Homo sapiens: one gene and its partner. The protein of the gene in region 2 purifies or fractionates together with the protein of the main gene of each other region. This does not show direct contact. Each region holds a gene or a part of one and is shown on either strand. Other genes may lie near its edges. The genes, in order: LZTR1 and PTPN9.

Region 1 (7,867 bases), on a different chromosome or scaffold from region 2:
TGCGCCTGCCCCCACCCGCCGGAGCCTACATCCAGAATGAACACAGCTACCAGGTGGGCAGCGCCTTACTCTGGAAGCGGCGAGCCGAGGCAGCCCTTGATGCCCTTGACAAGGCCCAGCGCCAGCTGCAGGCCTGCAAGCGGCGGGAGCAGCGGCTGCGGTTGAGACTGACCAAGCTGCAGCAGGAGCGGGCACGGGAGAAGCGGGCACAGGCAGATGCCCGCCAGACTCTGAAGGAGCATGTGCAGGACTTTGCCATGCAGCTGAGCAGCAGCATGGCCTGAGGGGCTGCTGGACTGACCGAGGGGCTGCCCAGCAAGACTGCAGCCTCTTCCTCCCTCAGATCCCACCAGACCCACCAGGTGCCATAATAAAGCGGATTCTAGACGGAGGGCCTGCTGTCTGGCTCAGCTGGGGGCTGGAGCCCCTCTGAGTACTAAGCTTGCTGCCCCAGACAGTGGCTGCAGCTCCTAGAGGGCTCAGTCCAAGCTCTTTGCCAAGGAGAACAGGGAGCCTGGCTCTCACCCCTCAGAGCTACTGGTAGACAGGTGGCAGTCAGCCCTGCTAGCGCAGCTCCGTGCCCCACAGGGTTCTCTGAAGGGGCAGGATGGTGTGAGTAGGGGCCAGGAAGACAGCTCCAGGCGCCCTTTCCATAGGATCTGAAACAGCCCTGACTTAAACCAGCCAGCCCCTTTGAGAACACTTCTAAAACCCAGTCTAGATCCGGTTCTCAAGCAGGAGCATGACAGGCTTCTGTCCACAGGCCCCATCAGCCTGGTGGGTAAGCTGGACAACCCTCTCCCCGCCCCCTTCACTACCATCTCTATTTGAAAAACGGGGATGATGATGACAATCATCAACCTCCTGGGTCATGTCAGCAGGTAGTAAAGCCCCAACAAGCTAGTCCCTGGAAATCTAGGAAGAGGTGGCCAGAACATGGAGACAAGCACTCAGGTCCTGGCCTCAGCATCCTTTTCCTTCAACTCCCAGGAACCTGGAAGGCCTTGCTGCAGCTGCAGTTCTCAAACAGCTCCGTCTTGGGGTGACTCACTGCAAGTATGGCCTCTCCCTGCCGAGGAGCACAAATGAAATTCATTCTAGTCCCAGAAACTGCCACACAATTTCGTAAAATTTGCTTTTTAGGGCCCTTGGCATGTAATTTCATTTATTCATATAAGTCTAGATCAGGGTTCAGTGACAAGGGTCAGCATAGAGCAGGGTTGCAGACTGGTTCAAGGAGGCTTCTGGGTAGGCCCCTCCAGGAGGGATTTGGAGGAGGCTGCCCTGTGGGTGTGGCAGGAGCCACATCTTGTGGAAACTGGGTAGATGGGTGTGTGGCCCCACTCTGAGTGAATGCACCTGGCCCACATGGCTGGGCGCTGCAGCCTGCACTCCACTTCCAGGTGCTGACATATCCTCCCCAGCCATGGTCCTGGGCCTGCTGTGTCCTCACCTCAAGGGCCTCCCGGCTCAGCCTCTGCCCCAGCTCCTGCTCTCTCCTCCCTTGTTCCCAGCTCATCTTGCACTAGGCCACTTCCTAGCCTGCAGGCTGCCTATGGATCTCCTGTTAGCTAAGCAACTTGCCACTCAGGGCCCCCCACACACCTGCATACACCCAAAGGAGAGCAGGTCACTTCCCCAAGGAGCTGTGGCTTCATGGCAGCCACAACAAGAAAGGGGTCCTGGAATCCTGTTCCCAGTAAGGGAGCGCTGGCTCCCAGCACTAGAGTGGATCCACATGGGGCCCTCACTAGGGCAAGAGGGCAGCCCTCCTTCCACAGGAGCCAAGAGCATAGTGCAGGGGCAAGGCAGGGCAGAAGGGGCAGGAGCCCACCCCAGGCCTCCAGGATTCCCCTGGAAGGGGCCAGCCTGGAGGCCTTCACAGCCCTTCCCAATGTGACTGGGTGACCCCAGGTGGAGGCAGGAGTTGACAGCATGGATAGAGACAGGTAAGGCCACTGACCTACATCTGGGGGTCTGCTAAGCCATGGGCTGCTCAAGGGGCTGAAGCCAGCAGTGGTGGCCGGGCCAGCAAGGTGTGTGTGGTGGGTAGCACTGCTGTGGCTTTAATGGAGGCTTGTCTGTGACAGAATACTCAGCAAGGGACACGGGGGACTTTGCTGGCTTCTTCCCGGCCGAGCCCTGACATGCACACAGGTGGACTGGGATCCTTCAGCCCCTGTGAAAACCAGGCCTGGCCCAGCACGACCGACCTGGGAGCTGACCTCAGGGCCCTTCACTCCAAAATTCACCTCAAGTCAGGTGAGACCCATACATCATGGGTCCCCACTCACAAGTTCCAGGTGGGAAGAGGAGCCCCTTACATGGATCTCAGTGAGGGTGGGTGGGACAGGAGCAGCCCAGGCAGATTCGCTGGTGCAGCGCAAGTCTGCTAAGCCTCCTCCCGCATGTTGGAGGAGCCTTGGTGACAGGCCCCAGTGCCTGAGTCCACAACACGCCCAGGCCACAGAAGCCAGGCCAAGCCCCACTGGGTGGGAGGCCCAAAGTCTCTCCCCACTTCTGGGTGGTGAGCCCATCACTGAGCCGTGGCCTCGCATCCACACTACACCAGGAGAGGGTGATGACAGGAGGGGGTCTGCTTCATCATCCGCTCCCTGTGGGACCTGTGTCTTCAGTGAATTAATGAGTTTGGGGCCCCACATCCCCTCAGCTCTCTTTGGAGGCTCTGGGCACCCTGACCCTTGGCCTGGCAGGTGCACCCACTGCCATAGGCATGCGCATAGCCGGTAGTCTTCTCAGTAGGCAGGGCAGGCAGGCACGGCGATTCTTCACAATGGGCAGGCGCCACAGGGCCTCAGATGTCGGCGCCCAGCTCTGCGCACTGCTTGTCTGAGATGTGGGAGGCCAGGGAGTCTATGATGTCCAGCAGCAGCTGCTGGCTCAGCGACCGCAGGGTGGGCAACTTGGAGACCTGTAAGGCAAGCAGGCCGGAAGGAGATGGGACCAGATCCACCTAAGGGCCATGGTGGGCAGTGGAGCCCTGTGGGGCCTACCCTGCTCAGGGCTCAGGCTGGTCCCAAGGATGAAGCAAGGTGCGGCCAGTGATGGGCTGCTCTGCTTCTCTCACCCCCAGGGCCCACCACTGCAGGGGACCACAGAGCCTGGGCACCCTCCCTGCCTGGGCATGGCCACTGCCAAGGGGAAGCGAGTCCTGAAGGGGAGGCCAGAGCCCTGACCTTGGTGAACTGGTGCACAATGATGTGCAGGCAGTGCCGCTTCATGTCCAGTGCCTGCGTTTTGTCAGCTGCCTCCAGGATCTGCAATGGCAGGGACCTTGAGGCGCTGCCCCTTTCACCCACTCAGTGGGAGCTGCAGCCATGTGCACGGGGCTGGGGGGCTACCTGCAGCACGTTCTGCACCGTCACGTTCATCTCCAGGTTCTGCTTGCAGTACGCCTGCAGCCGGTTGTTGTAGAAGCCGTAGTAGTAGGGGGCCGCAAACAAGTAGCTGGGGCCTGGTTAAGGAGCTGACTAAAGGAAGCTGGTCCGCCCGCACCCTCCCAGGGAAGGACAGGGAAGGGCGCAGCTGGAGCCCCAAGCCCCCACGCCAGCATGCTCTCCAAATGGATTCTGAACTACTTAGTGGGTCAAAGGCCCCATTCAGGATCCAAAGAAAACCATGAATCCCCTCCCGAGAAAAATAGTGTCTGTACATCTGTAGCGCTGTTCCATGGCCTTGCAGGCCTAACAGGCATCCTGACCCTCCATGTTCAGACCCCTACTGAAGTGACATAAGGAGTACCTCCATGTCTGTGCTCAACTGTCACACAAAGCAATGACCCACCCCGTCCTCTGGGCAGTTGTGAGGGTCAGGAACCCACTGGTTCCTCCTGGCTGCAAACCCCTCCTTGCCAGCTGCCAACTGCTTCAGAGAGCACCAGGCCCAGCCCCAGGCACCAGCAAACCCTCTGGAGGGAGGCGCTGGGCCCAGATCACCTAGCTGGGGCAGGAGAGCGGGCCTCAAAGCCACCTGAGGTGGGTGCCAGGACCCCTTGGTGGGGACCTGGGAGTTCACTGGGGAGTGAGGATGCAGCGAGTCCTCGGGCGGCATGTTGACCTCGCCGTAGTAGATGTAGCGCAGCATGGACTCGAAGGCCTGCCTGCTGGGCACCATCTCCCCGATGGAGATGTTCACCTGCCCATCTTCGGGCATGAAGGACCGGAACATGGCTTCAAAGTAGCTGCAGACAACGAGCGGTAGGCACCTGGCCGTCAGCAGAACGAAGACACCATCCAGGCCCACCCTCCCCTCCTGTCCAGCCCCCACCCACCTGGAGCGGGCGGCCAGGATAGCCTTGTGGGCTGGCCGTGGGTGCCCGTCAAGCAACAGAGTGATGTCACAGAATTCCGCGCCCGCTCCCTCCAGGTATGCCTTCATGTCCTGGATCAGAGATGTGCCTGGGGGTAGGAGGGTCCCTGAGCAGGTACAGCCTGGGATTCTGGCCTTGGGGCCCCACGGCACTACCTTCCTGCATATCTGCCCATGTTGCTGCCCTGAACAAAACTTCACCCAGGCAGAAGGCCTCACTCGCCCTGAGGTACCATCAGCCACATTCTGTCCTCCCTCGGCGCCCTGGCCGACTCAAGCACTATGCCCCACGCACAGCCCACCACCCAGCGTCTCATCTTCCACCCAGCTTGCTGTACCCCCTCGCTGACCTCATGATCAAGCCCCCTCCAGGCCCACTGCATGGCCTCTGGTGCCTGCAGACATCACCAAGAGCCAGCAACCGGGGTCAGCACAAGCCCCAGGGAGAGCTGGGGGAATGAAGGGGCCTGTGACATTACAAGCAAAGAGAAGTCCAGAGACTGATCACCGTGACCCTGGGCCATCAGACCTGACATCCTAGCCCGAAAGAGGTGCCCCATGTCCACCCCCAGAAATTGGCTCAGGAAATCCCAGGTCACCAGGACACAGCCCACTGTGGCAAGCCCCATGGGTCGGGGGCTTCTGCCTTCATCTGTTTCCTCCCTGTACCCAGGAGAGCACTCTGGGGTCCCATGGCACCCACCCCCACCCCGAGGGCCTGGCAGGTGCTCTCCATGGCTCCCAATCTCCTACCGCAGATGAACACCATCCCTCCCAGCCCCCAGGGAAGGGGAACGGGGCTCCCTACCAATGTCCACTGGCTGGTCCAAGGGAGTGCGAGGGGGCGGCTGCTGCTTCCGCCGCACAATCTCCACTATCAGTGGAGAGGAGAGGCGCTCGAACTCCTTCATCATGATCACCTGGTTGAAGTGGGACTCCTTTACCACGAAGTTCAGGCAGTGCTCCTGGGGCAGACAGGCACAGGCAGGCAGGCAGAGTCAAGCCAGGGCCCCAGGCTGGGCGAGGGGCTCACAGTGGTGGGCAGGGAGGGGGCCTAAGCCTGAGCACACCCCACCCAACCCTGATTGCGCTGACCCCACCCCACACCTTGAGTTGGCTCAGCTGCAGCCGGGCGGCACTCTCGCACACAACCAGCACGTTCTGCAGGTCCACGGAGGCCTCGATGTACTGGCGGCACAGCTGCTCCAGGCGGCACAACTGGAAGCTCAGTGCCAGTTTGTACACATCCATGATGAGCAGCACATCCTCCACATGGCCTGCGCCCCAGAGCCCCCGAATCTCAGGGAGCCGGAGAGGGGAGGGCAGGGCACAGGGCGCAGGGCTCCCCCCATGGAAGAGTGTGGGCTGGGGCCACTAGGTAGGAACAAGGCCTCGGGGGACTCAGATGGCGTCCAGCTGCAGTGATCATGGGTAAGGAGGGTGACCTGCAGCCTCTGAGCCTCAGGGGGCCCATCAGTAAGGCAGGGCTGGCAGCACCCACCTTTTGGCTCTGCTGCCCGCACCCCAGCCCACACCAACCCTGCTCCACCCCCACCCAGGCGGACCTTTCCGTGGGTATTTGATCTTGTCGGTGTAGAGGAACTGCATGAGCACCTCGAAGGGCCGGGCCTCGGCCTCCCGGATGGCCACGTGCAGCAGGGGCGGCCGGGCCCCACCAGCAGCCACGCCGGGGGCCTCCCTGGGAACTGGGGCGGCCTCCTGCTCCAGCTTCTGTGGGGAGAAGGGAGCTCAAGGACACCCCAGTGGACACCAGGCATGGCTGCCAGGTCAGGGCAGGGCGGTTAGGCACCTCACCTGGGCCAGCCTCTCCCGCGCCTGCGTGATCTTCCTGCGAAGCCAGCGGCTCCGCGCTGTGACAATGGCTACGTGGCCCTGCACGCACTCCTCCTTCTGCACAAAGAATGATGCACTGGCAGAGGGCACAGGACCCTCGCCCCAGAGAACAGAGACCCAGCCAGCCAAGGTCAGCACCACCAGGCCAGCAGCTGTTTTTCTGAGGGGCGAAATTCCCACTGCCCAGGCACAGCAGGCAGAGCAGGGTGCGAGGACAGGCACCCACCTCACCCAGCACGAACTCCACGTCGCAGAACTGGCGGCTCTCCCACAGCCGCCCGTAGTCCTCGTGCAGCGTGCATTTAGGGTAACAGGAGAACTGCAAGAGGGGCCCAGTGAGACTAGATGTTGCAGACAGCAGGGTGGCCCCAGTGTGGCTGTGCAGGCCGACCCTGAGGTCCCCACCTGGCCCATGCTGACCCTCAGGGCCCAGGAGGCAGGTGGGCCTGGCTGAGGAGAGGAAGCAGCCGCTACCCCACCCTGAAAATACAGCCTGGCTCCAGCCTCAGCACCTGCAACTGTCCACGGCCGGCTCCACAGCAGGAAAGGGCTCCCCTGCCTCTCTTGCCTTCGGCTGGGCCCCAGGCCTCAGCAGAGCTCTGCCGTCTCCACTCTGCCTGGACCTGCGTCCTCACACTGGCCCCCACCAGCACATCCCAACCTCCTCCAGGAAGCTGGCCCTGACCTCACTGTGGCTGTGAGTCCCTGCCCTGACCACCTGCTCCTCCAGGCCTGGGAAGGGGCTGTCAACGCAAGCCACTGTCGGCCCTGGCTCTGCCCTGGGCCAGGCTATGATGCCTGTGAGGCTCTGGTGCTGAGCCCAGCTTGGCCCGGCTCCCTCCACTGACTCTGCCGTGAGCCCCAGCACCATCTGCCTGCCCCACTGCACGAAGGCTGCCCACTTTAGTGCCACCTCAGCCCACCCTCAGCCCACAGGGCTCCTCCCAAGGCTTCCATCCTGCCAGGTGTGGCCCTGGCAATGGCCTGGATAAGCCCTGCCCCCCAACTTGGCCTCAGTTTCTCATCACGGGGGATCCGTCCACCCAGCCGGCTCTACAGGCCCACAGGCCCCACACCTGGAACCTGTACATCTCCCCGCTGCGGATGTTGTTGTCCACCGTGCCCCCGAAGATGTACATGGCGTCCGAGATGACAGCAGCCGCGTGGAAGAGCCTCCCACTGGGCAGCTGGGGGACAAGAAGGCAGGGTGGAATGGTGGGGGAGCAGAGCCTCCACAGTGCGGCTGGTGCAGCCAGGTAAGGCAAGGATGCGGCACCTCATGGCCATGAAGGGCCAGGGGGCAGGGTCCCCAAGGGATGAGGGCCCCTGGGTACAGACACAGGTGGGACCTGGTACCCATGTAGGCGAGTGGGGCATGACGGGCCATGGAGACCCTCAGAGTGGTCAGGGCACTTGGGCCAGTGTGTGGCACCCACCCCAGAAAGCTGCAGCCTGGCCAGCAGGGTGAGGGCCCTTGGCCCTGTACCCCCTTTGTGGTGTGACCCCAAGCAAGTATTTCTCGGGGCCTCAGTCTCCCCATGTGTGAGAGGTGTTGATCACAGGACCTGTTTCAGGGGGTGATGGAGTCTTAATGAGGATCCCAGCCTGTACCTCCGAGGCAGGCTGGGTGGGCTGCTTGGCTGAGGTGGTGCCAAAGTCCAGGCCAAACACATCTCGGGACTTC
Region 2 (7,867 bases):
ACTGCTTGAGGCCAGAAGTTCGAGACCAGCCTGGTCAACAGAGTGAAACTCCGCCTCTACAAAAAAATTTTAAAATTGGACGGGTTTATTAGTACGTGCCTGTGGTCCCAGCTCCTTGGGAGACAGAGGCAGGAGGATCATTTGAGCCCAGGAGTTGAGGCTGCTGTGAGTTATGATGATGCAACTGCACTTCAGCCCGAGCAAAAGTGAGACCCTGTCTCTTAAATAAAAAGAAACAAAGAAAATGTGTGGCACAATTATTGAATAGGCTATCCAGATCTAGATACTTTCTATTTCTCCATGAGCTCCTCAAGGGTCAAATTCAAATTATGGGCTTTCCCCTCATGACTCCAGGTTGTGGCAGGGGACTAAAACAAAAACAAGTCAGTGAGGGGGCAAAGAGAATTTAAAAAAAAAGAAGCTTGGATGCATAATGAATGATCCAGGTTCTATATTCCCAGATCAAAGTGCTCATCCTGTGAAGGCACATAAAACATGAATGCAGTAAGATTTTCACACTTTAGGGTATAGAATAGATAGATAGATAGATAGATAGATAGATAGATAGATAGATAGATGTGTGTGTGTTTATATATGTGTGTATATATATACATATACTTTTTTTTTTTTGAGACAGAGTTCGCTTTTGTTGCCCAGGCTGAAGTGCAATAGTGCGATCTCTGCTCACTGCAACCTCCGCCCAAGTTCAAGTGATTCTCCTGCCTCAGCCTCTCGAGTAGCTAGGATTACAGGCACCCACCACCACGCCTGGCTAATTTTTTGTATTTTTACTAGAGACGGGGTTTCACCATGTTGGCCAGGCTGGTCTCAAACTCCCGACCTCAGGAGATCCACCCCCTTGGACTCCCAAAGTGCTGGGACTACACGCGTGAGCCACCAGAATATATATATTTTTAAGACAGCATTTTACTCTGTTGCCCATGCTGTAGTGCAGTGGCACAATCATGGCGCACTGTAGCCTCGACCTCCCAGGGCTCAGATGATCCTCCCAGGGCTCAGGTGATCCTCCCAGGGCTCAGGTGATCCTCCCAGTTCAGCCTTCCGTGAGTGTCTGGGACTACAGGCAAATACCACCATGCCTGGCTGCCTAATTTTTAAACTTTTTGTAGAGACGAGGCCTTGCTATGTTGCCCAGGCTGGTCTCGAACTTCTGGGCTCAAGCGATCCTCTCACCTGGCCTCCCAAAGTGTTGGGATTACAGGCATGAGCCACTGCACCCAGTTTAAGATTTACAATGGGCCGGGCACGGTGGCTCACGCCTGTAATCCCAACACTTTGGGAGGCTGAGGTGGGTGGATCACGAGCTCAGGTGATCGAGACCATCCTGGCTAACAAGGTGAAACCCCATCTCTACTAAAAATACAAAAAAAAAAAAAAAAAACGGGCGTGGTGGCAGGCGCCTGTAGTCCCAGCTACTCGGGAGGCTGAGGCAGGAGAATGGCACGAACCCGGGAGTCGGAGCTTGCAGCGAGCTGAGATAGCGCCACTGCACTCCAGCCTGGGGGACAGACCGAGACTCCGTCTCAAAGGAAAAAAAAAATAAAAAAAATATTTTTTTAATTCTTGAGCTACATGTTACAGAAAACACCAAGAAGTTTAAAATACAGTCCCTGACATTGGTTTTAAAAAAACGGAGAAGCCAGATGCAATGGCTTATGCTTGTAATCCCAGCATTTTGGGAGGCCGAGATGGGAGGATTGCTTAAGTCCAGGAGTTCAAGACTGCAGTGAGCTACAATCATGCTACTGCACTCCAGCCTGGGTGACAAACCAAGCCCTAGTCTCAAAAAACAAAAAAGAAAGAAACTGAGGATAGGAGATCCATGAGGGGCTACCAATGAAACAAGACTGTTACAGATCACTTTGAAGAAGACGGATGATGGATATGTGGATGTTCACGATACCATTCTCTCTCAACCTACAGAGATTCGGATGTTAAAAAGAAAGTTTCCTGCCCTCAAGAAGCGAGTGGATTCATCATGTTGCCCAGGGCTGGTCTCAAACTCCCGGGCTCAGACAATCTGCCCATCTCAGCCAACCAAAGTGCTAGGATTACAGGCATGAATCAATGCGCCTGGCCTCAATATAGCACTTCTAATCCGGAGGACCAGCCAAAGATGTCGAGAGCAGTAAGAAACTGTAAATTACAAGCACCAGGGAAAAAGGAATAGCAGAACAACAGCATGGGAGGACAGAAATAACTCTGCCCAAGAGTGAAGAAACCAGGATCTTAGAACCAGCTGGACTAACATATGATGACTGTAAAAAACTTCTTGGGGCTTGAGTTTAATTGTCAATTGAATTGTAACAATACCAATTACCTTAGCAGGAAGAGAGTGATGACCTGAGCTGGTTCTTTATGCTTATGCACCTCTTTTTATTAAGGATGGTTTTTGCTTAACTTTATACTTCTGGGCTTCTCCCTGAATGTTTTTTTGTTGTTGTTGTTTGTTTTGTGTGGGCTTTTTTGTGGGGTTTTTTTTGAGACAGGTCTTGCTGTGTCACCCAGGCTGGAATGCAGTGGCGTGATCATGGCTCACTACAGCTTCACCATTCTGGGCTCAAGTGATCCTCCCACCTCAGCAACCTCCCCCACCTCCCCCAAGAAGCTGGGACTAAAGGTGCACGCTACCACACCCAGCTAATTTTTTGTATTTTTTATCAGAGACAGGGTTTCACCATGTTGTCCAGGCTGGTCTCAACTCCTGGCTTCAAGCAATCCACCTGCTTCAGCCTCCCAAAGTGCTGGGATTACAGGTGTGAGCCACTGCACCCAGCCCTCCCCTGAATGTTGAGTCTCAAAATCCTCTGAACTAAACGGCATTATTCCTGTTATGCAGACAAAGAAACTGAGGCCTTAGAGGTTCTGATATGAGCAAAAAGAACCAGCACAGGTCATCTCCCCCTCATTCTTTTCCAATAAGTAGTTTTCCATACACTGAAGATTGCCGATAATTGACTTTCTCAGCTTCTGTTTTCCTGACATAGAGCCAAGGTGGTAAAGAGAACGCCCACCATCTTGATAGTGCCTGCAAACATGCCGAGTTCTAAAGGACATGGATTGTTTTCTATTCATAGCATTGCCCAGGGCACATCCTAGGAGAATGGCGAAGGCACTGCTGAATTTAATCAAGTAAAAAACTGTCACTTTCCTACCTGCATGTAGAATACCTAAAAAATAATCTCAATGCTTACCTATCCACAGCTCTGTCTAGCAAGTAAAACAGAGCCTGAAGTACCACATGTTGGACTGACTTGTGGGGATGATGCAACCTGGCAGTAAAGAGGGCAATGGAGGCTCCTGTTGGGTCCCGAACATTCTAAAGCAAATAAAACAAGAAACATTAAAAAAATCAAATAGAAAATCACAGCAATTACTAAGACTTATATACTGGATAAGGGTTTGATACATGTAGAAAACAGATGCTAACAATAATTCCCTGACTTCACCAATTGCTGTCCAAAGGGAAGAGTGTTAATATCATCCTTTGTCTGATTCTCCCAGGACTCCCTGGACCATATTTCTGTGGTAAGAAAAAAAAAACACATTCTCTTTGCTCTTCAACTACAGACAGATCAAAGGATGGCTGTGCACTGGCTTCCTAGCTAACTTCCCTGGCAGAATGGCAAAAGAAACAAGCAGCAGGAGAGAACCAGGGAACAGGACCATGATTTCCACCCTCTGCCTTAAAAGTGCCATTGTATGTTTACTTGAAAGGCTGAGGTCTCAACTAAGTGGAGAGCTTGCGTTAAATATGGAAGCATGGGTGTCTGACACATTGCATATCTCTCCCAAAGACCATGACTAACCTTAATGGACCAACTGAAGAAACTTTTCTAAGTCTACTGTACAACTGATTTTCCATAATTCAATTATTCAATTATCATTAGTAACTCTAATTACTAGAAACTATTAGTAATTCAATTGTTACTAAAATAATTTTATACCAAACTGCATGGCTGTTTCACATCTGCTCCTAACTGTGGAGACTCTCTAGATTCAGGATAAGGTATATAGGAACAAAGTCCAAACAGGGGGGGATGGAGGAGGGATAGCATTAAGAGATATACCTAATGCTAAATGACGAGTTAATGGGTGCAGCACACCAACAAGGCACATGTATACATATGTAACAAACCTGCACGTTGTGCACATGTACCCTAAAACTTAAAGTATAATAATAATAAAATTAAAAAAAAAAAAAAAAAAACAAAGTCCAAACAGGACACCAGTTAAAAAAGGAAGTAATAAGGCCCTACAAGATAGGTCCCTAAACACTCACTAAGATGGTGAATTTTCCACTGAGGATCTCAGAACGAAGAGGTTCCTCATGAGGTTTCAGCTTTACAATGCCTTCCTTCCTTCGAGTTTCCTAAAAAGGAAGCACAGCAAAATGTATTAATATGAAAATACTGTATATCCAGGACAGCACCATGTAACCACCAAATCTCAGAGATAAGGTGGTTATCAATGAATGAATGAATTATAAATTTCATAACTAAATAAATTTTGTAACTAATTTCATAACCAATTCTACTTCATTTAGTTGAATTAGAATTCAATTAAATGGGCCGGGCGCAGTGGCCCACGCCTGTAATCCCACCACTTTGAGAGGCCAAGGCGGGCAGGTCACCTGAGGTCAGGAGTTCGAGAGCAGCCTGGCCAACATGGTGAAACCTTGTCTCGGCTAAAAATACAAAAATTAGCCTGGCATGGTGGTGCGCGCCCATAATCCCAGCTACTCAGGAGGCTGAGGCAGGAGAATCGCTTGAACCCAGAAGGTGGAGGTTGCAGTAAGCCAAGACAGCACCACTGCACTCCAGCCTGGGTGACAAAATGAGACTCTGTCTCAAAAAAAAAAAAAAAAAAAAAAAAGAATTCAGCTAAATGAATAATGAAGTCAACTAAATGAATTATGAATTTCTTTGTAACCTGCCTCCAAGCCAGTCAAGCATTTTCGGAATTCCTGTCCAAAGCTACTTTATCAGCCCCTCAGGTAGGGTATTTTTCTCTGACTCAGTAAGAACCCTAACCCTGAAGAGTAACCAGTATGTTACATTCAGGTGCAGGATCAAGGTTCTTAAACACGCAGCAGCACTGACATGGTACCAGGACACTAAAATATGGACCTCAAAAATGTCTGGATGCCTACGTTCTCACATATTTTCTAGGTTTAGGCCTCTCCTATGTTTAAATAGGAGCCTTCTCTCCACCTGATATTGTCTCCAACAGCAGCTACCATGACTTCATTTTCCTCACCCTGATGGCCAGATTCTTTTTTTTTTTTTAATTGAGACCAAGTCTCACACTGTTGCTGAGGCTGGAGTGCAGTGGCATGATCTTGGCTCACTGCAACCTCCACGTCCAAGAGATTCTCTTGCCTCAGCCTCCTGAGTAGCTGGGATTACAGGCACGTGCCACCATGCCTGGCTAATTTTTGTGTTTTTAGTAGAGACGGGGTTTTGCCATGTTGCCCAGGCTGGTCTCCAACTCCTGGGCTGAAGCGATCCACCCGCCTCGGCCTCCCAAAGTGCTGGGATTACAGGCATGAGCCACCGCGCCCAGCCTCTTCAGTTCTCCTCTTAAATGACAAGGTTGACCACCTACACTTCCTTTTTCCGGAGACATTCTCTACCTTTATATACCGATAACAAAAAAATATTATCTTGGTTTGTCTTATTTCATCAACCGCTTGTTTTAAACCTCTTAGGCTGGGCACGGTGGCTCATGCCTGTAATCCCAGTACTTTGGGAGGCCGAGGTGCGTGGATCACTTGAGCTCAGGAGTTCGAGACCAGCCTGGGCAACATAGCAAAACCCCGTCTCTACTAAAAATACAAAAAATTAGCCAGGTATGGTGGTGCATGCCTGTGGTCCCAGCTACTCGGGAGGCTAAGGTGAGGTGGGAGGATCACTTGAGCTCAGGAGGCAGAGATCTGCAGTGAGCTGAGATCATGCCACTTCACTTCAGTCTGGGAGACACAGCAAGACTCTGTCTCAAAAAAAAAAGTGCTTCCACAGAATCCAGTGCTGCCTTATCATAACATTTCTACAACTCTTTGTTTATTTTCTCTTTCTTTTTTTTTTTTTTAAACAGTCTCACTCTGTTGCCCAGACTGGAATGCAATGGTGTGATCTCGGCTCACTGCAACCTCCACCTCCTTGGTTCAAGTGATTGTCCCTCCTCAGCCTCCCGAGTAGCTGGGAATACAGGTGCCACTACACCCAGCTAATTTTTGTAGTTTTAGTAGAGATGCGGTTTTGCCATTTTGTTCAGGCTGGTCTCAAACTCCTGACCTCAAGTGATCCACCTGCCTTGGCCTCCCAAAGTGCTGAGATTACAGGCATGAGCCACCGCACCCAGCCCTAGTCTCTCTTTCTAAATAGTAATCTCTGCACCTGGAACACAGTAAGTATAAAATAAGTATCTGTTGAGTAAATGAATGAATATTGAATGAGCTGGTCCACAAGACAGATGTAACCAAACTTCAGTTAAGCTAATCCTAGTGCTTGTTATCCCAATTTTTTTTTTTAGGGAGATTTTGTATTTCTTTAGAAGGATTCTGACCCCAAAGTAACATGCTGTATAGTGTTTTATCAAAGACACTACTAACTGAGAAAGCAAACAAGCACAAAACCAAAGTCTATGCCCCCTCAAAAAACAAAAATCAAAACAAAGTAAAATCCTGATGCCGCTACATTTGCATAAAGATACTTTAAGATAATGGACCTAGCTAATACACAGTTGCTCTTCTTTTCCAGTGTTAAAACTTCCCTTCCTGAACTGCCCACTAAGCTCATCATTCATCTGAATGGCAAGTTTCTAAAAGCCTTAGACAACCTGAAAACCAAGATTTTCATGTGGCCAGAGGCCAATGAAAAGAGCTAGGATTAAAACTCTAGGAAGGGTGAACCCCTATCCTGCCACCAGGATGCTGTCAGGCTACTTCCTCCGTCTCAATCATTAGATGTGGCATCCTGGTCTACGATCAAAACTTAGGTACAAAAGTAGTGCCTTCCAGTAGCTGCCTTGCCCAGCTTCAGCTCTCACAAGGGCTCCTGGATATGGATCCATTTTTTATGAAAGTGAGGAGGAACACTTAGAGAACCAATGTGTGTGTCGAGCATGACAGGGACAACAGCAACACTTAACCCAACTGCCACAGGTCTGGTCTACCCCTGAGCCACATACTCTGTAGGAGTGGAACAATTCTATGGCACGGAGCACATCAAACTTCCTTGCCATGAGGAACTTGACAGCCACATTCCAAGACAGCGGGGAAACATTGTACTGAACTGTCCACTTGTTAATCTCTTCGAGAAACTGCTTGGTAGCCTGTTTGACAAAGAAAGAAAGAATAATTAGTAAGAAGAGAGCATATTTATGGAGTCAAAAAACAAACAAGTGAAAACTATCATCCCTTCTCCAAGCAAGTCTGAACCCAGTTTGCTACAGGGAGCAGGGAAAGACAAACAAAAAGGTAGAAACAGGTCTGAAACCAGACATAGTTAAAATTTGTATAATTCAATGAGGCCAGAAGCCAGATCTAGGTTCAGAAAACAGGACTTAGTGCAGGTATGCATGAAAAAATGAGGGGGGAGAAGAGGGATCCTAAATGAGATGCAAATTACTAGTCCCAAAGCAAAAAATAAAAAAATTTAAAAATTTTGGGAGGCCACACTTTGGGAGGTAGAGGTGGGAGGATCACTTGAGGTCAGGAGTTCAAGACTAGCCTGACCAACATGGTGAAACTCCATCCATCTCTACTAAAAATACAAAACTAGCCGGATGTGGTGGCGCACGCCTGTAATGTCAGCTACTTGGGAGGCTGAGGTAGGAGAACTGC

The links.
Region 1: the proteins of PTPN9 (region 2) and LZTR1 purify together in Homo sapiens (affinity purification with mass spectrometry; 3 studies listed by BioGRID and IntAct, with this or other methods). This does not show direct contact.

The regions. Positions count from the first base shown.
Region 1 is NC_000022.11:20,992,297-21,000,163, reverse strand, and holds the end of LZTR1 (leucine-zipper-like transcriptional regulator 1), read right to left. Parts: coding exon 7,795-7,867; intron 7,371-7,794; coding exon 7,260-7,370; intron 6,503-7,259; coding exon 6,410-6,502; intron 6,241-6,409; coding exon 6,145-6,240; intron 6,061-6,144; coding exon 5,895-6,060; intron 5,607-5,894; coding exon 5,437-5,606; intron 5,295-5,436; coding exon 5,138-5,294; intron 4,419-5,137; coding exon 4,292-4,418; intron 4,202-4,291; coding exon 4,052-4,201; intron 3,469-4,051; coding exon 3,363-3,468; intron 3,279-3,362; coding exon 3,198-3,278; intron 2,933-3,197; coding exon 2,816-2,932; 3' UTR 1,132-2,815; downstream 1-1,131. Other genes in the region: THAP7 (THAP domain-containing protein 7), read left to right, coding at 1-284. UniProt on the Homo sapiens protein: Substrate-specific adapter of a BCR (BTB-CUL3-RBX1) E3 ubiquitin-protein ligase complex that mediates ubiquitination of Ras (K-Ras/KRAS, N-Ras/NRAS and H-Ras/HRAS).
Region 2 is NC_000015.10:75,519,906-75,527,772, forward strand, and holds part of PTPN9 (tyrosine-protein phosphatase non-receptor type 9), read right to left. Parts: intron 7,357-7,867; coding exon 7,213-7,356; intron 4,394-7,212; coding exon 4,304-4,393; intron 3,341-4,303; coding exon 3,216-3,340; intron 1-3,215. UniProt on the Homo sapiens protein: Protein-tyrosine phosphatase that could participate in the transfer of hydrophobic ligands or in functions of the Golgi apparatus.